7 linked regions of the Homo sapiens genome follow. The protein of the gene in region 6 interacts with the protein of the main gene of each other region in a pairwise test. Each region holds a gene or a part of one and is shown on either strand. Other genes may lie near its edges. The genes, in order: SPRYD7, SPRY4, ZBTB8OS, NFYB, ANKEF1, CCK and MCFD2.

Region 1 (4,090 bases), on a different chromosome or scaffold from region 6:
TCAAGATATTCTCGTGCCTCAGCCTCCAGAGTAGCTGGGATTACAGGTGTGTATCACCACACCCAGCTAACTTTTGGGGTTTTTTTGTATTGTTTTGTTTTTTTTGAGACAGAGTCTCATTCCATCGCCAGACTGGAGTGCAGTGGCACGATCTTGGCTCACTGAAACCTCCGCCTCCCAGGTTCAAGCGATTCTCCTGCCTCAGCCTCCCGAGTAGATGGGACTACAAGCACGCACCACCACACCCAGCTAATTTTTGTATTTTTAGTAGAGATGGGGTTTCACCATGTTGGCCAGGATGGTCTTGATCTCTTGACCTTCTGTTCTGCCCGCCTCGGCCTTCCAAAGTGCTGGGATTATAGGTGTGAGCACCTGGCCAACTTTTATATTTTTACTAGAGATGGGGTTTCACCATGTTGGCCAGGCTGATCTCGAACTCCTGAGCTCAAGTGATCTGCCCACCTCGGCCTCCCAAAGTGCTGAGATTATAGGCATGAGCCACCGTGTCCAGCCTATTTTGTATTATCAACTTTAAGTAAACAGGTATATGATTTTTCTGCCTTTGGTTTTGTAAGTCTAAAAATATTTTCTCATTTAAGTTCTTAAATTTGGGTTATAATAAGAACTAATTAGGACTGGCGTGGTGGCTCACACCTATAATCCCAACACTTTGGGAGGCCGAAGCCGGTGGATCACTTGATGTCAGGAGTTTGAGACCAGCCTGGCCAACATGGTGAAACCCCATCTCTACTAAAAATACAAAAAATTAGCCAGACGTGGTAGCGCACTCCTGTAATCCCAGTTACATGGGAGGCTGAGACAGGAAAATCACTTGAACCCAGGAGATGGAGGTTGCAGTGAGCCGAGATCATGCCATTGCACTCCAGCCTGGGCGACAGAGCAAGACTTAGTCTCCACAAAAAAAAATAAAATAAAATAAAATTAAAAAAGAAAGAAAAATAACTAATTAGGCCAGGCACGGTGGCTCATGCCTGTAATCCCAGCAGTTTGGGAGGCCAAGACAGGTGGGTCACTTGAGGTCTGGAGTTCAAGACTAGCCTGGCCAACATGGTGAAACCGTGTGTGGTGGCACACACCTGTAATCGCAACTACTCAGGAGGGTGAGGCGGAGAATCACTTGAACCCAGGAGGCAGAGGTTGCAGTGAGCCGAGATCACACCACTGTGCTCCAGCCTGGGTGACAGAGCAAGACTCCATCTCAAAAAAAAGAAAAAAAAAAAAAAGAACTAATTTAATTACATTTGTTGTAGTTTACTATAAAAGCAGCACTGGTGCAATGACTCATGCCTGTAATCCCAGCACTTTGGGAGGCTGAGGTAAGAGTTGCTCGAGTCCAGGAGTTGAAGACCAGCCTTGAGCAACATAGTGAGAACACGTCTCGACAAAAAATTTTAAAATTATCCAGGTGTGGTTGTACGTGCCTGTAGTCCCAGCTACTTGAGAGGCTGAGCTGAGAGGATCTCTTGAGCCGGGGAGGTCAAGTCTCCTGTGAGCAGTGATCATCGTGCCGCTGCACTCCAGCCTTGGCACCAGAGTAAGACCCTGTCTCAAAAGCAAAATAAAATTAAAATACTAAAATAAAAATAGCAGTATCAATGATGACAAACTGGGATGTCAGAATTATACAATAACAAATATAAATAATAATATGATAATAGCCAAAGCTTGTGATTACCTTTTAGTTTAAGGTTTTCATTAGCCTTCTTTTCTCCTAAAATTACTTTTCAGTCATTTTACCTTCTGTGTCCTTGCATGTAAATGTGTGTTTTAAAACTCAATTTAGTGTTGCATATTGGGTAAGCCTAAAAGCAATTCCTTTATTTACTTGAGTAAATGGAAATTTAGCTTGATATTTGAAATAGGTTAGCCTGAGAAATAAAATAAATATCAGTAGAGTGACAGTTATACAAGTTAACTGTAGCAAATAAGTTTAATGCTCTAAACTGTTTCTTTTATTCAGCATTATTTGTAATGTACTAAGGTTATAGATACTAAATTATATTTCATAAATTGAACTCATAAATCAGTCCAATTAAACCAAGTGTTTTAATAGCCTGATCCTATCAAAGATAAACATAAAACTTAAATCCCTTTACTCTTTTGTCTTCCATCCCTAATCCTTGATCAATCCAATCATTCATTTTGTCTCTTCTTACACTCAGCCTGTAGAAAGAAAAAGACTGCATAACACTGAAGAAGTGTGGTTACAAAGTTACGACTTCCTGGCTGGGCGCAGTAGCTCACGCCTGTAATCCCAGCACTTTGGGAGGCTGAGGCAGGCGGATCACGAGGTCAGGAGATTGAGACCATCCTGGCTAACAGGGTGAAACCCCGTCTCTACTAAAAATACAAAAAATTAGCTGGGTGTGGTGGCGGGTGCCTGTGGTCCCAGCTACTTGGGAGGCTGAGGCAAGAGAATAGCGTGAACCGGGGAGGCGGAGCTTGCAGTGAGCCGAGATCATGCCACTGCACTCCAGCCTGGGTGACAGAGCGAGACTCTGTCTCAAAAAAGAAAACAACAAAACAAAACAAAAAAAAACAAAGTTATGACTTCTAGCCTAATCTGAGCTCTCAATAATTTTCAGCAATTCTTTGTGCATGTCTATGCATTCTGTGCTTCTTGCATTCTCTATTCATCCTCTGAAAATGCCTTGCCTTCTACCTTACAAAAAAAACAGGCAATCACAAGTGAACTCCAGCTTCCCTCTCTTCAGGTCCAATCCTGCCTTCTTTCCATCTCATCCCAGAAGTGGTACTCTGCATGTTGCAAACACTCTATCTGTAGTCTGGATTCCAAACTCCCCAAATCTGGAACGTCACTTTGTCAGTTATTTCATCGATATCTCATGTCATGGGCCTCCCTCTTCAGTGCTTATAAACATTCTAAGCCCCATCCCAAACGCCCTTCTTTGGGCATGCATCCCTCACTAGTCCTGTGTTTCCCCTTCCCTGGATGGCCACATTTCTTCTAGAATAACCTATATCTGCCATCTTTATTGTTTTTCTTTCTTTTTTTTTTTTAACATTTAGGTTCGGGGGTACATGTGAAGGTTTGTTACACAGGTAAACTGGTGTCACGGTGGGGGGTTTGTTGTATAGATTACTTGACTAGCTCAAGGGTAGAGCATTTGACACCTTTATTGTTATTGTTCGTTTGTTCTGCAACCCAATTCAGCTGCCATTACACCACTAATTGAAACCACCCTTGTTAAAATCACTGGTGACTTCATGAATGTCAAATCCAGTATTTACATTTTTTTCTGCATTTATGCTGAAATATAAAGTATATAGTAATGTGCATTAAACTTATATGTGCAATTTAACAAATAGCTATCAAGTGAACACTCACATTATTACCACTTAGATCAAGAAATAGAACATTTTCTTGGCCCAGATGCAGCCCGCACCACAGCTGCATTCCTCACCCAGGGGGAGTAATCACTATTGGGTGGCAGTGCTGATTATTTACTTGCTTTGCTTTACGGTCATGTTTTGTTTTGTCATCACCAGGGTCAAGGTAATGAACATATTCACCACCCCAAAGGTTTCCTTCTGCCTCTTATATCCTACTCACCACTCCCTACCCCAGCCCCAACCAAACAACCACTGATCTGCTTTCTGTCACTACAGATTAGCCCATATTTTCTAGAGTATTATATTAACAAAATCATATGGTCTTTTCTTTTGGTCTGGCTTCTTTCACTCAGCACAATTATTTGAAGATTCATTTATGCTGTAGCATATATCAATAATTCATCAGTTTTTATTGCTGAGAAGTGTAGCATTGTGTGGATATATCACAATTTCTTTATCCTTCACCAGTTGATGGACATTAGGGTTGTTTCCAGTGTGGGACTATTACAAATAAAGCTATTGTGAACGTTTGAAAATATGTCTTTGGATATACACATTCATTTCTCTTGAGTAAATACCGGTAAAAACATTTAGAAGCTGAGTAAGGCCTGCAGTCTAGTTCACAGTAGTGTACCAATGTCAGTTTCCTGGTTTGGATGTTGAGCTGTAGTCATGTAAGATGTTACCACTGGGGCAAAGTGTACAAAGGGTGCAC
Region 2 (4,090 bases), on a different chromosome or scaffold from region 6:
GGTTCTCTCTTGAAGTATGGTGAGGATTAAATGACTTGATTTATGGTGAGAAAATAAATCACTGAGGGCTTAGCACGGAGCCTGGCACCAAGAAATGTTTCGTAAATATTAGCCGCTTCCATAATTATTATTTATTATTATTAGAAGGTTGAGTGGAGGTAAAAGTCCCTTCCCTCTTGCCAGTTCGTAAGAGTACCACCTAAACTTGATAGAGGTGCTTCTTTGGCTAAGTGGAGTGCTGGGTTTGTTTCTCTGTCCAGTGTCTTCCAAATTGGCCATCAGTCTCTTCCAAACTGCTTAAATGAGGCAAAACCTCCTCTCTCTTATTTATATTATAAATCTCTTACTACCTTGCAGGGGAAGCAGGGAGCACATATTAAATTGCACTTAAGATTGTCAGCATTGCTCAGAGTGGAGGGTGGGTGTTTCTCAGTGAGTAGAGATTGATCTACCAAATCAACTGAGAGTTGTTTTTTCTTTTTCTTTCTTTCTTTTTTTTTTTCTTGAGACTCAGTCTTGCTCTGTCACTCAGGCTAGAGTGCAGTGGTGCGATATTGGCTCACAGCAACCTCCGCCTCCTGGGTTCAAGTGACTCTCCTGCCTCAGCCTCCCAAGTAACTGGGATTACAGGCACCTGCCACCATGCCTGGCTAATTTTTGTATTTTTAGTAGAGATGGGGGTTTCATCCTGTTGGTCAGGCTGGTCTTGAACTCCTGACCTCAAGTGATCTGCCTACCTTGGCCTCCCAAAAGGCTGAGATTACAGGCATGAGCCACTGCGCCAGGCCTTCTTTCTTTTCTTTTTTTCTTTCTTTTTTTTTTTGAGACATCATTTAGCTGTGCTGAGGGGTTCTTAAATAGGCAGCTCAGAAAATTGTTTTCCTTTGTCAGCCACATAAATTCAGCAGAGGCTCTTGGAGGGTCCCTGCTGGTGAGGGGTGAGGCCAGCAGTGGAACTCTGATTTGGTTTTTGCTGAGCTGGTGGTTGAAAGGAATCCTACTACATCGGGGTTATAATAGGGAAGATACATTTTAGAATATGCCCAGTGGAGCCATCGGATGCTGCATCGTCCCCAGAGAGCCAAGTCATCGTGGGCCAAGCTCCCATCCCCATGTCTGGCCTCAACTGCAGGCCCAGATGTTGACAGCTGCCTCTGGAGGGTTATGGGAGCCTGTGAATGCCAACATCCCCATTGCCTGCAGCGGCTGCTCCCATCCTGGCTTCCTGGTGGGACTTTTCCATGAATTGGGGAATCTGCTTTCTGATTCCAAGGCCTATTAAAATTTCTGAGCATTGCCCATTTCTTTTGCTTTATCTGTAGGACATGGGCTGTTTTTAAAGAACCTCACAAATGAAAAAAAAAAAAAAAAGTGAATCTGCTTAAGGAAAGGGAGTCTTTTACTTTCTTCCACAGCATGACCAGACCCAATCCTGGTCCTGAGAGACAAAACCCAACTATATGGGGCAATAGAAGCTTCAAACTGCTGCCTACATTGTGTTGGCAGGACCCTGAATATTCCTGACATCGGTTTCTGGAACAAGGGACTCATGTTATCATTGTCCGGGGGTGAGGGTTCTGGCTGGTGCTGGAGAATCTTATCCGTGGCATTTTTAATTCTTAGGCCAAGCCACACCCTTTCCTCCAGGCAGCGTCCTCAGTGCTGGACCTTGGGCTCCTAACCCTGGCCTCTTGCCCCAAACTCATTTATTCTAGAAGCAAGGCTTTGGAACACCTATTGAGAATAAGTGGGCAGGCTGAGGTAGCATTCCCTGGAATTCCTACGTTGTCATCAGCCTGATCCTTGGAAAAACTCCTCTCCATAGATGCTTACTTGCATTCCCTCTCTCCAGCCCTGACCACAGGATCTCCAGGGGAGGCTGCTTTGGCAAGTGGCTACTCTTTGGTGGCAGACCTGCCAGACACTTAAGGTAAACTCTGCCACAAGGAAATCGCCAATTCAAAGGTGATGCTATGGTTTCATCCGAAGAGAACATGGGGGCAGGCACTGCCACTAGGTAGGCTTTCTCCAAGACAGGAAAAACAAGGCGTGTAAAGAAATACCAGCATCCTTTTAAGTAGGCAGGGCCATGGGAGCAAAGCCAATAGTTGATGCCCTGCGTGAATGGGAAATATCAGTTGACTGAGCATTGAACCTCGCAGAAAAGACTGGATGCTTTTTGGATTTAGCAGTGTAAGTGATATACATACTGGAGCCCCGTGGATAGCCCCCTTTTTATCCCCTTCATAAACTTTTATCTAGAGCTAGCTTTTTATTTTAGACAGGTTCTAGATAAACCTAACAGCAGAGGGGCAGGATCAGCTCTCCTAATTAGAACATCGTTAGCATCTTGATGCAAATTTAGTAAATGCAAAAGCATTTACTAAAACCCCACCCCATAATACATTAATGCAATGGCCTTTTTTTGGTTTTGTTTTAAAGACTTATCTTTCTCTTTTACCCTCCCTCCCCATTCCCTGGGGTTCTTAAGATTGGGGTGGAATCTTCCCAGAGTGTAATCTTTCCCTTGGATTCCAAATTGTATCCCCTTGAGCAGAGGTCTTGGCCTTCTGCTGCTATTTCTTTAAATTGATCTCCAGCAGAATTCCAAATGTAAAGGTCAGCAGGCAAGGAAATGGCACTTCTAATAGAAAACAATGTGCACTTTCTAAATTTGAACCAAGCAGTTTCCGCTCTTTGATTTAAGTGACTTCCTGGGGTTCCGTGTCAGGCACTGCAGTTGAATCTCTGGCTGGATTCCAACTTAAAATTGCACTCTCTCGGTGAAATTAGAAACTGATCCAGGGTTGGCTTAGCTACTCTAGTAAATAGCATTTAGGCTGAATGTTCAGCTCAGCACTTGGAAATGGGTGATGTGAGTGCCCCTCGAGAGGATTTCCCATCCAAGTTGTCAGAAGCTCACATACCCAGGGATTATTAGCCACTGCAGGTTGCTGCTCTTAAGAAGTGGTAGTAATAAGTTAATATCCTGGATGTGCAGGCATCAGATACAGCCCTTCTCTTGTGAATATCTGAAATAAAGGGCTTGTTTATCCAGCTGATAAACTCCATGGGAGCACCCAGAGCTGTCTGTTGAGTTCACCACATTGTCCCCAGTGCCTGGCACAGTGCTTGGCAGGCAGTGCTTGTAAGTGCTCAGGAGATCTAAACTTATTCCCTGGGGTAGCGATAAATTGTTGCTGCGTGCCAGGTAATATGCTAGGTAATAGATAGTATTTTCTCATTTAATCCTTGCAAGAGCCCATTTTACAGATGACAAAACCAAAATCTAAGGCATAGAGATGAAAGAACTCATTCATAGCAATATTGCTAGACCAAAGTGAGAGTCAAATTTGAGTGTTGTTCCAGAGCCTGTGTTTACATCCACTGAGCTATGTGTCTTAAATAAGGAGCATGTTTCACAGTGACTAAGAGAATGAACTCAGGCTGCCCAGGTTTGAGTCCTGCTACTGATAGTTTTGGATAGTTTTGTGTGACTTTGGACAAATTAATTTCAACATGTCTTTTCTCTAAATAGAAAAGGGGGATAATAGTAGTTACGTTTTAGGCTTATCATGAAGTCAATGACTTAATGCATATGGTGCTTAGGAGAGTACCTCCATCTTAAGTGCTCAGTAGTATTATTTCCACCACTGACTTCTTGTCATTATTAATCATCTTAAGCTTGGGGAGTCACTGGAAAGTCCACAGAGGGATTTTAGTTCCTATGTCAATTGGGCGGCTCCCAAGGACCTGATGGGGGGTGAGGTATTGGCAGGCCACATACTGATGCCTGGAATCCATTCTCTCTTCCTTTTCCCCACCCCACCCCCAGGGCCCCTAGAAGCCTGTTTCTCCGTACAGTCCAGGACCTCCAGCCCCATGGAGCCCCCGATCCCACAGAGCGCCCCCTTGACTCCCAACTCAGTCATGGTCCAGCCCCTTCTTGACAGCCGGATGTCCCACAGCCGGCTCCAGCACCCACTCACCATCCTACCCATTGACCAGGTGAAGACCAGCCATGTGGAGAATGACTACATAGACAACCCTAGCCTGGCCCTGACCACCGGCCCAAAGCGGACCCGGGGCG
Region 3 (4,090 bases), on a different chromosome or scaffold from region 6:
TAGTCTTGTTTCCACCTGAATTGACTCTCCCTTAGCTAAGAGAGCCAGAGAGACTCCATCTTGGCTCTTTCACTGGCAGCCCCTTCCTCAAGGACTTAACTTGTGCAAGCTGACTCCTAGCACATCCAAGAATGCAATTAACTGATAAGATACTGTGGCAAGCTATATCCGCAGTTCCCAGGAATTCGTCCGATTGATAAACGCCCAAAGCCCCGGATCTATCACCTTGTAATAGTCTTAAAGCCCCTGCACCTGGAACTGTTTACTTTCCTGTAACCATTTGTCCTTTTAACTTTTTGACTACTTTACTTCCGTAAAATTGTTTTAACTAGACCCCCCCTCCCCTTCCTAAACCAAGGTATAAAAGTTAATCAAGCCCCTTCCTTGGGGCCGAGAGAATTTTGAGCATTAGCCGTCTCTAGGTCGCCGGCTAATAAAAGACTCTTAATTTGTCTCAAAGTGTGGCGTTTTTCTAACTCGCTTGGGTACAACAAGGCCAAGGTGGAAGGATCACTTGAAGCTAGGAGTTTGAGCAACCTGTGCAACCTAGTGAGACCCCCATCTTTTTAATAGAAAAAGAAAAAAAAAAGTAAAAAAAATTAGCTGGGGCCAGGCATGGTGGCTCACGCCTGTAATCCCAGCACTTTGGGAGGCTGAGGCAGGCGGATTACGAGGTCAGGAGTTCAAGACCAGCCTGGCCAACATAGTGAAACCCCCTCTCTACTAAAAATACAAAAAATTAGCCCAGTGTGGTGGTGCACGCCTGTAGTCGTAGCTACTCGGGAGGCTGAGGCAGGAGAATAGCTTGAACCCGGGAGGCAGGGGTTGTGGTGAGCCGAGATCATGCCACTGCACTCCAGCCTGGGCCACAGTCCCAGCTACCTAGAGGCTGAGGCAGGAGGGATCTCTTGAGCCCAGGAGGTCAAGGCTGCTGTGAGCCATGATTGTGCCACTGTACTCCACCTTGGTAGACAGTGAGAACCCATCTCTTTAAAGAAAAAAAAACCAAAAACTAAAACAAAAACTAAAGGCCAAGTGCAGTGGCTAATATCTGTAATCCCAGTACTTTGGGAGGCCAAGGCGGGTGAATCACCTGAGGTCGGGGGTTCGAGACCAGCCTGACAAACATGGAGAAACCCCCGTCTCTACTAAAAATACAAAAAATTAGCCATGCGTGGTGGTGCATCCCTGTAATCCCAGTTACTTGGGAGGCTGAGGCAGGAGAATCGCTTGAACCTGGGAGGCAGAGGTTGCAGTGAGCGGAGATCGTGCCATTGTACTCCAGCCTGGGAAACAAGAGCGAAACTCTATCTCAAAAAAAAAAAAAAAAAGGCCAGGCACGGTGGCTCACGTCTGTAATTCCAGCATTTTGGGAGGCCGAGGCCCGCAGATCACCTGAGGTCAAGGGTTTGAGACCAGCCTGGCCAACATGGTGAAACTCTGTCTCTACTAAAAATACAAAAATTAGCCGTGCGTGGTGGCGCGTGACTGTAATCCCAGCTACTCCGGAGGCTGAGAGCAGGAGAATCCCTTGAATCTGGGAGGCGGAGGTTGCAGTGAGCTAAAATTGGACCATTGCACTCCAGCCTGGACGACAGAGGAAACTCCATTTGAAAAAAAAAAAAAAAAAAAAAGACCTAGAATTGATGGAAAGGGAATGTTCTGGTTAAGATAAAAGATTGTGGAGAACAAAGTTCTTTTGAAGTCCTATAGTGGCTGCCCTTAGAGACAATAGAAGACAAATGTTTCCTATTCAGATGTTAGTTAACATCTTTAGGATTGGGAGGGTCTGGAAGAAAAAGATCTAGCTATGTTAATAGAGATTCTTTACGGATGCAAATTCTCCCCCAGAAAGAACAGCTTTGCCGGGCCATTTCTTTTTTTTTCTTTTTTTTTTTGAGACAGAGTCTCGCTCTGTCACCCAGGCTGGAATGCAGTGGCACCATCTTGGCTCACTGCAACCTCTGTCTCCTGGGTTCAAGCAATTCTCCTACCTCACCCTCCCGAGTAGCTGGGATTACAGGTGCCTGCCACTACGCCCAGCTAATTTTTGCATTTTTAGTAGATACGGGGTTTCACCACGTTGGCCAGGCTGGTCTTGAACTCCTGATCTCAGGTGATTTGCCTGCCTTGGCCTCCCAAAGTGCTGGGATTACAGGTATGAACCACCGCGCCCGGCCCTGGCCATTTCAAAATATGGCAAAGAAACATGCTTTGGGGTAAAATATTTTGATTTTCTTCCTTGTGTTGTATCTTGTAATTTTATGCCAGACTCAGGTTAGAAAGTAAGTCACGATGTATAGGGTTAAATAAAATACTTCTGAAGAGAATTTGTGATTTGTAGGGCATGACTCCCCAAACCCCTTAGATAGGAATTTGGGCAAGATAAAAAAAAATCAGAGTTTAGTTGTCATAATATTCTATGTAACAAAATTGGAAGTATGTACAAAGGTTTTGTTTTGTTTTGTTTTGTTTGAGACAGTCTCGCTCTGTCACCCAGGCTGGAGTGCTGGAGTGCAGTGGCACAATCTCGGCTCACTGCAACCTCCGTCTCCCGGGTTCACGCCATTCTCCCGCCTCAGCCTCCTGAGTAGCTGGGACTACAGGCGCCAGCCACCATGCCCGGCTAATTTTTTTTTTTTTGTATTTTTTAGTAGAGACGGGGTTTCACCATGTTAGCCAGAATGGTCTCGATCTGCTGATCTCGTGATCCGCCCGCCTCGGCCTCCCAAAGTGCTGGGATTACAGGTGTGAGCCACCGTGCCCGGCCTGTATAAAGTACTTTTGTGGCATGTTAAGTGTTGATTACTTGTGGAAAAGAACAATAATTGGCCGGGCGCGGTGGCTCATGCCTGTAATCCCAGCACTTTGGGAGGCCGAGGCGGTGGATCACCTGAGATTGGGAGTTCGAGACCAGCCTGACCAACATGGAGAAACCCCATCTCTACTAAAAATACAAAATTAGCCCGGCGTGGAGGTGCATCCCTGTAATCCCAGCTACTCAGGAGGCTGAGGCAGGAGAATTGTTTGAACCCAGTAGGCAGATGTTTTGGTGAGCTGAGATCGCGCCATTGCACTCCAGCCTGGGCAACAAGAGCAAAATCTGTCTCAAAAAAAAAAAAAAAAAAAAAAAAAACTTGTGTAATTGAGTTGTGAGCTGAACTAGGTCCGTTTTTCATGGAACACTTTTTCTTGAAAGAATGAAAGACATGCTTTTGTTATTCAGACTTCAGTATTTGGCTTGCTCTATTGCCCAGGCTGGAGAGCAGTGGCACGATCTCGGCTTACTGCAACCTCCACCTTCTAGGTTCAAGGGATTCTTCTGCCTCGGCCTCCCGATTAGCTGGGATTACAGGCCCCACCACCATGCCCAGCTAATTTTTTTTTTTTTGTATTTTTAGTAGAGACAGGGTTTCACCGTGTTGGCCAGGCTGGTCTTGAACTCCTGACCTCAGGTGATCGGCCCACCTCGGCCTCCCAAAGTGTTGGGATTACAGGTGTGGGCCTCCACACCCTTGAAAGTGAACAGTGATCTGTCACATCAAGGAAAATAGCTGACAATATTTGTTGATAATGGTAAAATTCAAGTCCAGTTAAAATTTTCAGGCCTGATGAGCTTAATCTCAGCACTTTGGGAGGCCAAGGGGGACAGATGGCTTGAGCCCATAAGTTCGAGACCAGCCTGGGCAACGTGGCAAAACCCTGTCTCTTACAAAACATTAACTAGGTGTGGTGGTGCGTGTCTGTAGTCCTTACCACTTGGGAGACTTGAGGCAGAAGTATCACTTGGACCTTGGAGGTCTAAGCTGTAGTGAGCTGTGATTGTGCCACTGCACTTCAGCCTGGATGACGGAGTGAGACTCCGTCTCAAAAAAGAAAACAAAAAGATTCATTCTAAGTGCATAATAGATCAATGGATTTTAATTTTACAATATGGTAAGTTCATTGTGATGGTTACAGAATCCACATTGCAACTAACGTTGAAAAAACTACCATGTTTTGGCCGGTGCGGTGGCTCATGCCTGTAATCCCAGCACTTTGGGAGGCCGAGAGGGGTGGATTGCCTGAGGTCAGGAGTTCGAGACCAGTC
Region 4 (3,983 bases), on a different chromosome or scaffold from region 6:
CCCAAACAACCCTGAGAAGCAGACATTTGGCCAAGATCACAAGCCTGTAAGAAGGGGAGTTGGAATTCAAGTCAGGTTGTCTGATGACAGTGGCATTGCTACTTACTCCTCTTGTCACAATTTGGGGCTTTCATTTGTCTTTTCTTCCATACTTGCCGCAGAAATGTTTAAATACTCTGAGAAACAGTAGGAACTCTATAAATAAAAGATCTCTGTATTTTTACATAATCAAAGCTGGAGAGTTTAATGTGGTGCAGGCCACTCGGTTAGTGGAAGCAGAGGGCATGCCATCCCCAGCTCCGGTTGCAGTGAGTGGATCCAGTGTTGGATTACCCACCTCTGGGATGGTCACTGCTAAGCGAAGCTGAACTCAGGACTGCAGTTTGAGAAAGACAGCGAAGGAGCTTGGCTGCACAGAGGCAAGAACGGGCCACGGATTCTTGCAGCCAAAATGTCATCTGGTTGGGAAAAGCCGCTTGTCAATCTGCAGCTACTAGAGGGGTGGGGGTGGGTGGAAAATGCAGCATCTTAAGTTCAAGATTCAGGGTGAAGGCTGGCTAGACTTAGCAGGGGTCTGCATCTTTAGATGAAATGTGAAAAACACCCAAGCTCAGGGACCAAATGACAGGGAGCGCTGTGCATGCGGCGACGCTAACAGGGACCCAAGGAAAGAAAACACGAGGCGCTGAAGGCGCTCCAGGAGGCCCCCGCCGTTCAGACCCTCCCGGTGGCTCGGGCGCGTCGTCCTAGGGGGCGGCTTCTGTCCTTGGTTTCCCCTTCTTAAAAATCCAGGCGCAGGCAGGCTGAGCTCAGGCGGCTGAGGCACCTCCACGTGGCGGGGGAAGGGGTGACAAAGAGAGGGACGCCCGAGAGATCCCGCTTCGCACAGGCCCGGGTCAGCACCGGGAAGGAGGCCCGCCTAGACCCGAACGGCGCGCCCGGGCAGGGCCCTGGAAGACCTCGCGCCTAGAGGAGCGGCATCCGGAGCGGCGCGGAGGCCTCACAGGAACGCGGGACTGGGCCGGGGGCGGGGCGGGGCCGGGGGCGGGGCGGGGCGGGGCGGGGCCGCGGCGGGCGGGCGCGCGGGCGGCGCGGAGGGAGGGTGTCGCGCCGAGGGAAGCGGCCCGCGGCGGAGGGAGGGGAGGCCGAGTCCTGGAAGCGGAGCTCCGCGCTGGGACTGGTTCCTTCGCAGCCATTTTCTGTCCAACCAAACAGCCGATTGGAGACGGGAGCCAACCAGGGCTGCATTGGAGGTTTGTGTCTCGCTTCGGCCAATGATCGCTCCTAAACCGACTCCACTTTAGCTCGAATGAAATGTCCGTCTCCTCCCGGCGCCGTCCCCGCCGCCAACGCCGCCGCGGCCGGGGGCACTAGCCTCCCGCCCTCCCGCGCGGGCCGAGGCCGGGCCCCGCGCCTGCGAGGCCGCTCCCGCAGCGGGCCGGGCCGGGGAGCGGGCGCGGGGCCGCGGCGCGGCTCTTTGTGCGCCGGGCTGAGGAGCGGCGGGACGCGGGCCAGGCCACCTCACCCTCGCCGCCGTTGAGCTCCGGGCCCGGGGCCGAGGAGGGGCCGCGGGGCTGCGTCGGGGCCCCGCTCTCGACGGCGTCCCGGGCCGGCTCCATTTTGTGCGGGGAGCCGGCCGAGGGGCGGGAGACGCGGCCCGGGCCCTGGCCCCGTAGCCCCGGCGGCGGCGCGAGTCCCCGGGGGCGCCCTCCTCCCGCCCGCGGGGCTGTGGCGGGGCCCGGCGCTTTGTCTGCCCGCACATCCCGGGGGCCGCGCGGCGGGTGGGAGGCAGGCGTTGGGCGCGGGGCCGGGGCGGCCGGGCGAGTCAGGGGATGCGCTCTGGGGGCGGCCTCCTGGCACTCGCAGGGCTGACAGGTCGCCGGGACCAGGCCGTGGGGCCGGGGCCACCCAGGCACCTGCGTGGGGAGGAAGGCATGGCTTTAGCTTCCCCGCAGCCTGGTTTGCGCGTAAAGAATGCAGCCATCTGGCGGTTTGCGGTCCCTGTACTTGCCCCGAAGGTGGGAAGGAAGCCCTTCGGATTGGACTAAGGTTTTAATCATTAGTGGTGGGAGGCGGGAGGATATGCAGGGCCTTAAAGAACGGTAGTCTTAGAGAACAAAGAATTACAGAGCACCCACAAATCGTAATCTCGCCCAAAGCACTCTAACAGGATAATTTAAACAAGGTTAGGTAGCCTGCGACCTTTAAAAAAATGGCATCCCACTAACCCGCATGGACCCCATAGTTGCGTGGTTCGTGCTACAAATCACTGGGGTGGTTTCATCTCTCTTAGTATGGAAACTAATCAGCAACATAAAGTGATGAAAGCAAACGGATCAATATCAGTGGCACTAATCAGTGGGGGGTTTATTTGTAAAGTATTGAAAGTTTAACCAAAATTCCTTAAAAGGCAAATTATTCCTTCCCTGCATTGCTCTTGTATCTTAATTTAAGGATTACTGTATATTGATGCAAAACTCTGGTTGTTGATGCCAAAGAATGGAGGGTGGAGGAAGGGACTACTGCTTTTCTTGGATACAAATTTGCATTTCTTAAAACATTAAACAGATGTATGCATTCCCTTGAGCTTTTACATATATCAACCTGCCCTTAAGAAAATATACACCATATGAGGTGACAGTGTTTTTCTTTAATGTACTGAGTCTAAATATATACTGAATCAACTATTTGGGTGAGTGAGTGTGGTGTGGTATGACTCCCTGCCCACACCCCCCTCTCCCATTCCAAGCAAAATACATAAATATAGCTCCCATGTTTTAAGTGTTCTGAGGGCTTATTTTTTCAAAGACACTCTTTAAAAAATAACATTTCTCGTTACAAGGAAGGACTTTTCTGAGCAGTTTTGGGGTTAGAGGATACTATTAATATTTGAAAAGAAATTATAAATTACTTTTAATATTATAGCAAACGTCAAGCAGTTTTTGCTACCTGGACCTTTTTAGTGGCATTAAAAACTTTCAATTCAGTGGCTACAATTTTTTCTGCTATTTGCTAGATTTCATGCTTGGATGCGTATCAGTATATCTTCTCCCTTTAAAATTAACACTGAAAGGATGTGTTTTTGTTTTGGCATCCTACCCCTCCCCCATTTAATTGTTTCCTTTGAGAAAGAATGGAGCAAATGAGAAATGAAACTTGTAACACAGCAATTGGTACTAATTTGTTCAGCTATTTATGCCTTACAGTGAGACTGAAGTGCTATTTCGATGCAATTTTAGTCAAAAATGGTGGTGCTTCAAAATTATAAATAAGGGTCTTGATTGTGTTGCTTTTTTGATATCTTCTCAGTGCAGAATGTATCTTCATTACAGTATAATCTGAGATTCTTAATTGAAAAGCATTATATTCTCAGATAATTTTTTCCTCCTCTTGAGCTATAGAATGTCTAAATGTTACTCTGAAACATTTAAGAAAACCATCACCAAAAAATTAAGATGATAAGGGGTGTGTTTGCATCTTGAGTGTTAATGTTTTAAGTAATTTAGATGTATAATTTTTGGTCTCTTGCATATTATATAATTTGGTCCCTTTTTGGTGTATTGTAATGAATGTTTATGATGAATATGGCTAAATTCAGGGTTATGTTGGAAAATCCATTTTCTCCTTTCCCCATGGAATTAACTTGTTTTTAAGTTCTCCAAAATAAATCTTTCAAGTCAACAAACATTTATTGGGTGCCTTTTTATACTATTTTATACCATGTACTCCATTGATTAAGAATAGTAGTCAAAATTATACAAGCCCTCTTTAATTTTATGAGAAAAAAAGCCTATAAGTGATACATTTGATGTATTTTTACTATTGATAGATGTTAGGTCCTAATAGATGTTTATCTTTTAGGTTGAAATCACAAAGATTAGACACCTTTTTAGATAGGTGTTCTTCAGCACCACTGACAACACGGTTCTGACAGTATTTCATGACAGTAAGTATATTTTACCATTTTGGTTGTTAATTAGATT
Region 5 (4,527 bases), on a different chromosome or scaffold from region 6:
TTAGCTATGGTATTTCTTTAGCTATGGTATGGTATGGTATGTACTTTCCATATATCATACAGTATATTTTGGTGTGCATGAAATAGTCCTTAATAACATTTTTATTATTTTTTATTTGACGTTTAAGTTCAGGGGTACATGTGCAGATTTGTTATATAGGTAAACTTGTGTCATGTGGTTTTGTTGCACAAATTATTTTCTCACCCAGGTATTAAGATTAGTACCCATTAGTTATTTCTCTTGATCCTCTCCCTCCTCCCACTCTCCACCTTCTACCCTCCAATAGGCCCCAGTGTGTGCTGTTCCCCTCTATGTGTCCATGTGTTCTCATCACTTAGCTCTCACTCATAAGTGAGAACATGCAGTATTGGGTTTTCTGTTTCTGCGTTAGCTTGCCAAGGATAATTGCCTCCAGCTCCATATTCCTGCAAAAGACATAATTTTGTTCCTTTATATGGTTGCATAGTATTCCATGGTGTATATGTACCGCATTATCTTTAGCCAGTCTATCATTGATGAGCACTTAGGTTGATTCCATGTCTTCGCTCTTAACATTTTTAAACAGTCTCTGAGTAGAATAGGGTAGGCTGGTGTAAGGAATTACTGTTTTTAATTGGAAGCAATTACATACTGCATTAAAAAGCATATATATATAGACACACATATATATGTTTTACATTCACATAATCAAACCAAAGCTTTCAGAATTTTCCGCCAAAAAGCATGTGTGGAGGGAGAGAGAGGGGTGTTATGGTGCATTTGTAGGCCCTGAAATAAAGTGATCTCCATATTTGCTTCCATTTGTGTATAAATATTTTTTAAGCATATATGCATCCTAGAGTATGGAAAGAAAATTTCTGGGAAGATTTGCAAGAATCTGTGGCAGTTGAGAGTAGGTTCACTTTCGCTTTATTGTGTAATTTATTGTATTTTTCATTTAATTGTACTTTGTAAACTAAATATTTATTGTATATTTTACTTCATTTTTTAATTGCCATATGCAGCTTTAATTTTATAACTAAATTACGTTCTGACCCAGGGCAGGAGGTGGGAGAAGAGAATGAGAGAAGGGCGGAATCCTCAAGACAGCAGCATTCTGCGCTCCGCCCTGGAACACCCAGCGCAGCTACCCCATCCCGCCCAGGCCGGCCACCTGGCGTCGAAGCCAGGCGCGAGGGGCGGAGGCGGAGGCGGGGGCGGGGGCGGAGGCGGAGGCGGAGGCGGAGGCGGAGGCGGAGGCGGAGGCGGAGGCGGAGGCGAGCACCGCCCCACCGCGCACGCTGCGGTTGCCCCGGCAGCCGCGCCCTGCGTGGCGGAAGCTCACAATCAGCCCGGTCCCTCCGGCTTCCACCCCGCCCCCTGCGCTCACCTGCCCGCGCGCTCGCCTTCCGGGGACCCGGGGCCCATGGACACATACACCCAGCCCTGCTGTCCCGCGCGCCAGCTCACCAGCCCTACCCAAGGGACATCATTCACGCCTGGGCGCCTCCGCCGGGCTCCGGGAGCCCAAGGTCGCGGCTGGGCCAGCGCTGAGCGTCAGAGGACGAGAGCAGGGGCCTCCCCGGTCGCCCCAGCAGGCCCAGGCACATAGGTGCCCAGAGATCCCTGGCTTCTGATCGCCCGGAAGACTAAGAGGTGAGCATGACACATGGCTTTTCCTTTGACGTTACATCTCTACCCCCTCCACTCCTCTCTTCTCCAGATTTTTCTGGAGACTAAAAAGTGGAAAGCACAGTAGAGAACCCCCAACATGTAAACTATCGCTTACACTTGTGGGTGAGCTGAAACCCGCAAAAGTTTGGTGTATTCATAAGGAGCCTATATTGAAGGACTTTGCTAAATGTTTTACAAGGATCATATCTCATTTCCTTTTCACACAGTCCCATGAAGTGGGCACCATTGCTATTGCCAGTTCACAGATGCAGAAACTGAGGTAAAAACTAGGTAGGTAGCATATCCATATTTATATCCAACTAGTTTGTGTAAATAATGATACAGGGAAGGGAGGATCACAACGGATTTCCCCACCTCAAACCCTACATTCCACTGTACCAAGCTTGTCTTCCTCCATTCCTCTTTCTAATGATCCTTCCTTGTCGCACAGCCCCCCTTTGAGAGTTAAATGACCTGAACACACACAGATTCCCACAGATTTTCATGTAATTTCCGAGTATTCAGACCCCGAACATGGACCTCAAGTCAAGACATTCTGCTCTATTCCACTACCTTGGTAGATGGTTAGATGTGACTAAGGTGGCCCAGGGTCATGCTGGGGAAAAGTACAGGTGTGCTTGTATGTGGAGGATCCTATATGCTGCTCAATTTACAAGGAACCCAGGACCCAAGGGCTACACTTGTGTGATTTCCTGCAGTGGGGTGAGCTCTTGGTCAGTCTTAGCAGTTGATTGTGAAGGACACTATACAGGGTGCTGCCCTCTCCCCAGCACTTCAGGGCTTTAGCTGGGAGGGAGGCAGTCCACAGGAAACCGACCCATGGACCTACTGAATTCATCACTGTAGCTGCTAATTAATTCTCCGTTAGAGATGGGTGCTAACAGAGGCAACATTGAAGTCCCTGATTGGGAAATCCTTATTTTCACAAATCAAGTGGCATTGATTCAGTCTAATCATTACCTATGTAGGAGCATCTTGCCCTATTCCATAGATGACACATATACATATGCAGTATGATGACACCGCACCTAATCGGAATATGGCCGATAATAATAAAACAAGCCATAAATAGCAGCTAAGGTGAGTGTCACCAAGCCGTGCAGCAAAGTCCAAGTGGATGACTCTGAGGCAGCCTCAGTTGGTTCCCTAGTCCACCGCATGTTATAAACAGATTAAAAGGCAAAGGAGGCCTGGCCCGGTGGCTCACGCCTGTAGTCCCAACACTTTGGGAGGCTGAGGCGGGTGGATCACCTGAGGTCAAGAGTTCAAGATCAGCCTGGCCAACATGGTGAAACCCTGTCTTTACTAAAAATACAAAAATTAGCCAGGTGTGGTGGTGGGCACCTGTAATCCCAGCTACTCGGGAGGCTGAGGCAGGAGAATCGCTTGAACCCAGGAGGTGGAGGTTGCAGTGAGCCGAGATTGTGCCACTACACTCCAGCCTGGGTGACAGAGTGAGAGTTGGGCTGAGGGTCGAGGGTCATGGGATAGGGCGAGACACCAGGGGAGTGTGTGAGGACAGAAAAGAGTCTTGAGGACCTAGCCCTGGGCACCCAACATAGGCTTCTTGAAATGGGGAGTCAGCAAAGGAGCCTGAGCAGGAGGGGGCATTGGTGTTGGATGGAAGCAGGCGATGGAGATGTTGTGGTGCCTAGAGAGACACATTTAAAGGAGAGAGAGCTCACTGCCGTAGAGAATGTAGGTGAGGGAGCAGGCTTGCGATGGAGAAAAATGGTGCATAGTTTCAACTTTTGTAGTAAGATGGAATCTTTTCATTGCAAATGTTGGAAACTTAGCTAACTAGCTTATACCAAAATAAGGTGACGGGGGAGAAGATGTATTTACCCACAAAGTGGTAGATGGCTTCTGGCACCATGGAATCCATGTTGCAACTAATGCCATCAATCTCAGTCTCTCTCCATCCTCCAAGCATGGACTCTCTCTGTGGCACCCAAGAGAGCTACCTGCGCCCCAGCCCCACACCATACTGCTTAACAACTTCAGCAGAATAGTCTTCCCTCATAGTTCTGGATGATGGGCTGCTGATTGGTTGATGTCTTTTATGCACATATGCTTGAGCTTCAGTGTACCTGGAAAGGGATGGTTCCCTCAAATGGGCCAAGCCTAGGCCACAGACGCTTTCCTCTGGCAGGGGACAGAAGGGACAGCCCCATCCAAACGACCCGGATAGGATTCCCTATGTGATAATGGAGTTCTTTTCTCATAAGAAATGAAGAAACAACTGGTCATACCTAGCATGGCCTGCTACTCAATCCAAAAGATTTTCCGTACAAGGAGGTAAAATTACATACTAGAATGCCCATCACAATTTAACAGGGAGATTGTTTATGAAGATTTGCAGTTTCCTTGCAGCCATTTAACTACATCTTTTCCACTTAAGATGACATAGGAATCACTCATCACATCTCTGATATGTTACAGAGCCCAGTAGATTTGTTTATAATGAACACCTCAAAATTATATGTTTTTATAACACCTTAAAACTATTAAAACCTGCATGATCTCTCTATTTTGCTGGTGTGAAACCATGTAGATAGATGGTGGGAACTCAAACCCTTACCATGGCAATTTAGTTAACCTCAGCTTCTTCATGGTAAAATGGTAAAGTGTGATGAGGAGGGAAGGTTAAATGGATAATAAGAAAACCACCTGGCAAACTATTTTTAATTATGATGGAAGATTTGTTTGAACTGTTTTAACTTTATGCCCACTCAATATTTTTGATATTTATGTATAAATCCTACTTTCTGAACATTTCTTAAAAAACAATCTCTGTTCTTAAGGAAGTTCCAAAATATTGTTATTTAATCAAAATGAAGATGATAAAATTAA
Region 6 (3,520 bases):
TTGGGGGCTGCCAGGTTCTGTTGCACTAGGCACCTGGGGCCTCTGCTGGACAAGGATCAGAGGGTCTTGGAGGCCTCAGCAGGAAGCATGGAAAGGTTGCACTGGGGGTGGTGGGTACTGGATCATCTCTGGGTGTCGCCTTGGACTATTTCCCCTCACTGATTTCTACAGCGAACCAACAGACAGATTGGCTTCTGCTCTGTATAACTACCAGAGTCTCCCCAGCACTTTGGAGTCCCACCAACTCCAAAACATGGCGGGGCTCAAGGAAAAGCGATTATAGGCTCTTATCTGCACCACTGCAGCTCCAAGTGCGGTCTGCAACCAGCAGCATTGACATCACCTGGAGCTTGCTCAGGCTCCTGCCCAGACTTGTTGAATCAGAATGTGCAGTTTAACAAGATTCCCCGGGTGATTCCTGTGCACTCAGTTGGAGAAGTGCTAGAGTGATGAAGGTCCCGATAGCCTAGGAACATTAAGCCCTCCAGTCTGTGAATCTCCTTAGCTGGGGCATAAGGGGCAGTCACTTTCACTCTTCAGAGCCTGTTTCCTCATCTGTAAAGAAAGGATGATAACTTCTGTGCCACAGAGCCATGGAGTGATCAAATGTATGCAAAACCATGGCCAGTTACTGCCTGTAACTTGTTTAAAGGCCAAGAGAACCCCAAGGAAACCCTGATGGGAGTAGGATTGGTAAATAAGATCGGGGATCAGGGTGGCCAGGGCTGGGCTCTGGAGTTGCCCACAGATGGCCCTTTCACTGTCCACCTGGCCTGTAGCAAAGTTAGCTCCAAGTCTGAGCTGCATTTCCCAAGCCCTTTCTGGGGACATCTACTACAAGGATTTGTCCCAGTGTAGCATCTATCAGGCTTCCCTCCTTGCATGTTCTGAGGACCAAATGGAGCCCTTTGCCCTCAGTAGACGCAGGGAACGACAGGGCAGAATGAAATCACTTTAATAGCATAACAACATTTTCAGACCAGGAGTCACAGATGAAGAAAACATTTTGTCTTCCATTTGCACAATTCTGGTGAGGTGTGTGGTTGCACTGGACAATCTTACAGACACATTTTTCACATTGAGAACTTAATAAATAGATACATACAATGTCAAACTCCACAGACAATGAGTTATGAGTGTGATTGTTTTCTTATTCTGCCTCCTCTGGGTTGGGAGGTTGCTTCCCGTTGGGCTGATGGCGGCTGGGTCCTCTAGGAGGGGTACTCATACTCCTCGGCACTGCGACGGCCAAAATCCATCCAGCCCATGTAGTCCCGGTCACTTATCCTGTGGCTGGGGTCCAGGTTCTGCAGGTTCTTAACGATGGACATTCGTCCAGAAGGAGCTACAAGGAGCAGGGAGGAAGGAAACAGGGACATTGCATCTAAAAGCATCTCTAGTTCAATTTGGGAAGGAGAGCAATGGAAAAAGCCAGACGCAATATAACAGACACCACCTTAAAGGTATCAAAGAGCTATCAAAGTAGTGGAACTGATGGACCAAAATCTGAGAGAGGAGAAGGACCAATGTCTGTGTAACTGGAGAGAGGACAATATATTTACAAGTTAGGGGTGTGCTTTGCGTTCTGCAAGTATTTAGGTGGATTCATTTTCTCTAGCCTTGCAGTCTGGGGACTTGCCTAGATTTTCCTTAGTCTCCCTACCGTTTGCTTTCTTTTGGTAGATGGGTGTTTTCCTTTTGTAGATGGCATCAGCAGAAACCAACCAAAGATTTTTCCAGTACTTAATTGTTCCTAAATTCATCCCTTAATATCCATCAACATTCCTGACTCCTGGAGAGCTCTTGTTATTAAGGTGGCACAATTATAATATCTTGATGTTGGAATGGTTAAAAAAAAATCGTTGGTGGGAGTGTAAATTAGTTCAACCATTGTGGAAGACAGTGTGGCAATCCCTCAAGGATCTAGAACCAGAAATACCATATGACCCAGCAATCCCATTACTGGGTATATACCCAAAGGATTATAAACCATTCTGCTATAAAGACACATGCACATGTACGTTTACTGCAGCACTATTCACAATAGCAAAGACTTGGAACCAATCTAAATGCCCATCAATGATAGACTGGATAAAGAAAATGTGGCACATTTACACCATGGAGTACTATGCAGCCATAAAAAGGATGCGTTCATGTCCTTTGCAGGGACATGGATGAAGCTGGAAACCATCATTCTCAGCAAACTAACACAGGAACAGAAGACCAAACACCGCATGTTCTCACTCATAAGTGGAAGTTGAACAATGAGAATACATGGACACAGGGAGGGGAACATCACACACCAGGGCCTATCGGGGGGTGGGGGTTAGGGGAGGGATAGCATTAGGGGAAATACCTAATGTAGATGACTGGTTGATGGGTGCAGCAAACCACCATGGCATGTGTATACCTATGTAACAAACCTGCATGTTCTGCACATGTACCCCAGAACTTAAAGTATAATAAAAAATAGATAAATAAAGCTCCTTTGCTACATAAATACTCTTTTAAAAATATGAATTTGAAAGTTATATTCAGAAAGCTTTTGTCATTTATCAGTAAGTGTTTTGAGTTGATGATCATTTTATTTTTAATGATAAATCAATATCAATTAAAAATGATATTCAGAAAAAGACTGTCGGATTAAATCTTGGCACCTCAGTAAGACTCAAAGAAGGGGGGGAGAGAGGTGATAACAAAGGTGATTTAAATCAGCAATTTTGACCAAAATGCAATAACTGAACCTGAAATTGTCCCATTGGGATGGAAGTTAAGTCTTCAGGAACAGTGTGATCCTTTTGTAGAGCTCACACTGAGTGAGCAGGGACATGAAGAGGCAGTTTATTTGGAGACATGAGACAGTCCTAGCTCAAAGTTCATAGACAGAAGCCTCCTGGGGTATGAAATCAGCAGAACACCTTCTCCTGTGCAAGCTCAGTCTTAAGAAAGGCCCTTCAGGGACTTCAATGGACAAAGCCCAGGCCAAATCAAGGGTAGAGGAGTGGAGGACCACTCAATGACTCCCACTGTGTTGGGGGCCACTGTATCCCCACCTCCTGTCATGCTGGTCTATATCCCTTCTGCATGAGGCTGCCCTTGCCAGCTCCTACCCATAGGCTGAGTAGAGTCAGACTATGGCTTATGTGTTGATAAATGAAAATGCAAAGGCAGTTACCCTGGGTAATGAAATTAAGCAAGTTTAATTAAAAACAGAAACAACACAGAACAACGTCCCCACCCTTTCTCTCCCCAACCCCAACCCTTCCCAGTTTTGGAACCAACAGTCAATTCAGCACATTTCAGGTCTTTTTGCAGATATCCTCAGCCTACGTAGAAGAAAAATAGCCCCTGCTATTTAATTGTTCATCATTCAGGTGAAATATTACCCTTGAATTCAGGAAAACCTATAGACCCAGTTACCTGTACACAGTCACATGGAAACATGACCCATCCTTCTGCCTGCTGTGATGATGAGTGCCCACTCTAAGGCCTGGGCACAACCCAAATTTCCATCTAATGG
Region 7 (4,090 bases), on a different chromosome or scaffold from region 6:
AATTAGAGAGGGAGTCTCACCATGTTGTCCAGGCTGGTCTTGAACTCCTGGGCTCAAGTGATTCACTTGCCTCAGCCTCTCAAAGTATTGAGATTACAGGCATAAGCCACCATGCCCAGCCCGATTCCCTGTTTTCAGTGTACCACTTGGAGGAATTTTTTTTCTTTATGTTTATCGATTTGGCTTTTGTTGCATTCCAATGATTAGAAACCTGCAACAGCAAACCAAAATGAGACAAGTTCAAAATCAGTGATTCTTGGCCTTTATCCCACCTCCCTTAAAGAAGGGATATTTTGGACTCATAGTTACTACATGATTAATCACTTGGTTGCTTTTTGGTGTTATCTAAATAGAATTTCCCCCACCCCCAACACACACACACCAAATTGATATACTAAGCATCCAATCACATAGTTGGAGGAAATGGTGCCATGAGTTCCATGATAGATATCTCCAAAAGAAAAGTTTCATCTTCAGTTACAGTGACATTAAAAATTGGCAGCATATCTGCAAAGGTGGTAATCCCCCCAGCTCCCCAAGGACCATGGCACACAGGCTAAGAACCAGCAGCTTCTGTTCCAGGCACTGTGCCTGATACTGGGAATGTGGATTCAGTCCAAGTCCTCTTAAAGCCCATCCAGCAAGGGGCACTGACAAGTAATCAGGCAGTTTTTCAAGAATTCATTCACACACAAGAAAACAAAAGAAAAAAAAGAATTAATTTGCAGCTGTCATCAGCTGTGGACGGGAGCCTTCTGAAGGGAAGCACTTGGGAGCCTGCAGGACGAATACCTACACCAGACTTGGAATTGAAAAGACCTCACTGGAGAAAGAGACATTTGATGTAAATGAGTCTGAAAGGCTTGGGAGGAGCTTGATTCCCTTCTCTGATCCTTCCTGTCCCAGAACTCTAAGATGTGTGGTCAGAACAAGTTGTTCTGCTATGGCCTAGGCAGTCACTGCTAGGAGTAACCTGAAACCTTGTTTTGTGGTACCAGGTACAGTGGCAGTGGCCTTGTCAGGGTCTGGACACGTTTAAAAAATTTTTTTGAGACAGTCTCACTCTCTTGCCCAGGCTGGAGTGCAGTGGTGTGATCTTGGCTCACTGCAATCTCTGCCTCCCGGGTTCAAGCAATTCTTGTGCCTCAGCCTCCCAAATAGCTGGGATTACAGGTGCACGCCACCATGCCCAGCAAATTTTTTTTTGTATTTTTAGTAGAGACGCATTTTGCCACATTGGCCAGGCTGGTCTCAAACTCCTGACCTCAAGTGATCCACTTGCCTCGGCCTCCCGAAGTGTTGGGATCATAGATGTGAGCCACTGTCCCTGGCCAAGGTCTGGGCACTTTTATTTGGTAAAATTGGAAGTGTAGTTTCTGACTGTTTCTGAATTATTTTGTGGAGATAAGAATTAACCGGAAACTCCTTTTGTATCCGATCCATATAGTATTGGGACAAAATTATGGGATAGATTACATTGAATACATATTCATAAAAAATGGTAGCAGATCTCGGCTCACTGCAGGCTCCACCTCCGGGTTCATGCCATTCTCCTGCCGCAGCCTCCCAAGTAGCTGGGACTACAGGTGCCCGCCACCACGCCTGGCTAATTTTTATTTTTGTATTTTTAGTAGAAACGGGATTTCACCGTGTTAGCCAGGGTGGTCTCGATCTCCTGACCTCGTGATCTGCCCGCCTCGGCCTCCCAAAGTGCTGGGATTACAGGCACGAGCCACCATGCCGGCTGAAAATCACAATTCTAATCTCATGTCTCAAGATAATCTTTGTTATTAGTTTGTGTAGGAAATACACATTTTTATTTTACAAAAGTGTATTATTCTTTATTGCTTTTTTGCAGCCTGTTCTTTTTCATTCAATATATATTGAGCATTCTTTCCTATTAAGTATGACATATTGCTTTTTTTTTTTTTTAAACTACAGATATAAAAGGTCTGAGGTGGCCGGGCACGGTGGCTCATGCCTGTAACCCCAGCACTTTGGGAGGCCGAGGCGGGTGGATCACCTGAGGTCTGGAGTTCGAGATCAGCCTGGCCAAGATGGTGAAACCCTGTCTCTACTAAAAACACAAAAATTAGCTGGACGTGGTGACATGCACCTGTAATCCCAGCTACTCGGGAGGCTGAGGCAGGAGAATTGCTTGAACCTGGGAAGCGGAGGTTGCAGTGAGCCAAGATTGCGCCACTGCACTCCAGCCTGGCGAAAGAACAAGACTCTGTCTCAAAAAAATAAAAATTAAAAAATAAAAGGTCTGAGACAGATTGCATTTTGATGTCACTGTTTAGAAGTAGACTAGATTCTAGGTGCTTTTTAGCACCCTGGAAGTTTCTTCCTTTTTTTGGTGGTGGAGGACAGGGTCTCACTCTGTTACCCAGGCTGGAGTGTACTTCAGCCTTGAACTCCTGGGCTCAAGCAATCTTCCTATCTCAGCCTCCTGAGTGGCTGGGACTATAGGGGTGCACTGCTACGCTCAGCTAATTTTTTATTTTTTGTAGAGATGGGGGTCTGACTGTGTTGTCTAGGCTGATCTCAAACTCCTGGCCTCAAGTGATCCTCCTGCCTCAGCCTCCCAAAGTGCTGGGATTACAGGTATGAACCACCATGCCTGGCCTATCCTGGAAGTTAGACATCCCAGTGACTATTGTCCCCTTTAAGGAGGGGGCCATGGGAAGCAATACTGGTAATGGGAAAAACGGATTTGGGAAATTTTTCTAAGTGTTGTAGGGTGGCATACTCACACTTTCAGGGTTCTGCCCTGAGAGCCTTTTAGGATGGGTAAGAGGGACTATAACACCTCTACCTCTCAGCCCCAGGCACAAAGACAGCTACAGCTTCTGAGCTGAGCCCTGTGTGTAGCATGTAAAGGGGATGACCAGTGCCTTATGGTTTGTCTTTACCACTGCTGGTTTGGGGCTGTGGACTACAATTGACCTGTTAGAAATCCCTGGCCTTGTTATCTAGCAGAATCTGTTTTGCCTGTTGGGAAGTGAGTGTTCGGTCAGGTCTTTTGTTTTTGTATGTAGGTCACCTGGCTGTCCTTCACCTTCCTTTTTGAGGTCAGTCTGTCAGCCCTAGGACAGACCAAGACTTTCCATTGAATCAACAATTATTAAAGGCCTGCCTGACCCTTGGCGGGTAATACTGGTGGGGTTAAAGTTCTCCCTGCCCTCCAAGAGCTTGCTCTGTAGCTGACTGTCATCTTATTGACCACAATTCCAAGTGTGGCCAAACCCTGGGAGTTCCTGATGGCATCCTGATTTCTCTGTAACTTTTCTTTCCAGTGCCCGCTCACTGTAGTTACTTGCCACTGTTACCACCCAGGAGGTACAGAACCTTGTCCGCTGCCGCAGACCTTGATCTGACCCGCCTTACCACTCCCTTGGCTACCATGCTCCTGCCTCTAGTCTTGCTTTTGCCACTTCATGCCTTCCCCACTGTGCTGCCAGATGAGTCATTCTGAAACCAAGCTCTGATCTCACCTCCCATTCATGAATTGTAAGTGACTCTCCTGTCTTTCTCTGCAGGAGATGTCAAGCCCTGGCCTAGTGTGCAAAGCCCTGTCCAGTACAGCCTGTCTAGGCCTTGGAGCCACCTCTGTCCTGTCTGCTTCCTACCCTCTAGGCTGCAGCCCAGCTGAACTACTTGTAGTTTCTTTCCCGCTTGTGGGCACCTGCCACTCTGCTCCCACCATTCCTGTGGTCCTTCAGTCCCTGCATATCTGTCCAGGCCCAGCTGAAGTGTCACCAGCTCTATCAGCCTTCTCTGATTTTCCTCCACTCGGAGGAGATTTCTTCCCCTGAACTCCTAGAGGGTTTTCGCTTTCTCTGATAATCTGATATAACTTGCTGGCTGCCTTTCCTGGTGCTCTTGATAGAAAATATTTCTTTCAGGGGACCATAACTTCTGGGAGGCAAGAATAATCTTCCAGTCCCTTCAAGCTTTCACGTGTTGCTTGGCACTCTGCAGGCACTTCAGGAAACCTCGTGAGCCTTCCCCTGCCATTTGAGTGACTTGGAGTGCCCAGGGTCATCCCACAGTCTCAAAGCAGAGCTGGCATTGGGCCGTGTTTGAC

The links.
Region 1: the proteins of CCK (region 6) and SPRYD7 interact in binary tests that used the Homo sapiens proteins (3 or more experiments, as listed by UniProt).
Region 2: the proteins of CCK (region 6) and SPRY4 interact in binary tests that used the Homo sapiens proteins (3 or more experiments, as listed by UniProt).
Region 3: the proteins of CCK (region 6) and ZBTB8OS interact in binary tests that used the Homo sapiens proteins (3 or more experiments, as listed by UniProt).
Region 4: the proteins of CCK (region 6) and NFYB interact in binary tests that used the Homo sapiens proteins (3 or more experiments, as listed by UniProt).
Region 5: the proteins of CCK (region 6) and ANKEF1 interact in binary tests that used the Homo sapiens proteins (3 or more experiments, as listed by UniProt).
Region 7: the proteins of CCK (region 6) and MCFD2 interact in binary tests that used the Homo sapiens proteins (3 or more experiments, as listed by UniProt).

The regions. Positions count from the first base shown.
Region 1 is NC_000013.11:49,915,558-49,919,647, reverse strand, and holds part of SPRYD7 (SPRY domain-containing protein 7), read left to right. Parts: intron 1-1,426; exon of another isoform or gene 1,427-1,555; intron 1,556-2,183; exon of another isoform or gene 2,184-4,090.
Region 2 is NC_000005.10:142,314,901-142,318,990, reverse strand, and holds part of SPRY4 (protein sprouty homolog 4), read left to right. Parts: exon of another isoform or gene 1-1,930; intron 1,931-3,835; coding exon of another isoform or gene 3,836-3,882; coding exon 3,883-4,090. UniProt on the Homo sapiens protein: Suppresses the insulin receptor and EGFR-transduced MAPK signaling pathway, but does not inhibit MAPK activation by a constitutively active mutant Ras. Probably impairs the formation of GTP-Ras.
Region 3 is NC_000001.11:32,640,312-32,644,401, reverse strand, and holds part of ZBTB8OS (protein archease), read left to right. Parts: intron 1-4,090. UniProt on the Homo sapiens protein: Component of the tRNA-splicing ligase complex required to facilitate the enzymatic turnover of catalytic subunit RTCB. Together with DDX1, acts by facilitating the guanylylation of RTCB, a key intermediate step in tRNA ligation.
Region 4 is NC_000012.12:104,135,411-104,139,393, reverse strand, and holds the start of NFYB (nuclear transcription factor Y subunit beta), read left to right. Parts: upstream 1-1,183; 5' UTR 1,184-1,253; exon of another isoform or gene 1,254-2,185; intron 2,186-3,861; 5' UTR 3,862-3,940; coding exon 3,941-3,946; exon of another isoform or gene 3,947-3,950; intron 3,951-3,983. UniProt on the Homo sapiens protein: Component of the sequence-specific heterotrimeric transcription factor (NF-Y) which specifically recognizes a 5'-CCAAT-3' box motif found in the promoters of its target genes.
Region 5 is NC_000020.11:10,033,699-10,038,225, forward strand, and holds the start of ANKEF1 (ankyrin repeat and EF-hand domain-containing protein 1), read left to right. Parts: upstream 1-1,288; 5' UTR 1,289-1,635; intron 1,636-1,880; 5' UTR 1,881-1,944; intron 1,945-4,527.
Region 6 is NC_000003.12:42,256,887-42,260,406, forward strand, and holds the end of CCK (cholecystokinin preproprotein), read right to left. Parts: intron 1,346-3,520; coding exon 1,212-1,345; 3' UTR 940-1,211; downstream 1-939. UniProt on the Homo sapiens protein: This peptide hormone induces gall bladder contraction and the release of pancreatic enzymes in the gut. Its function in the brain is not clear.
Region 7 is NC_000002.12:46,909,297-46,913,386, reverse strand, and holds part of MCFD2 (multiple coagulation factor deficiency protein 2 isoform A precursor), read left to right. Parts: intron 1-2,513; exon of another isoform or gene 2,514-2,607; intron 2,608-4,090. UniProt on the Homo sapiens protein: The MCFD2-LMAN1 complex forms a specific cargo receptor for the ER-to-Golgi transport of selected proteins. Plays a role in the secretion of coagulation factors.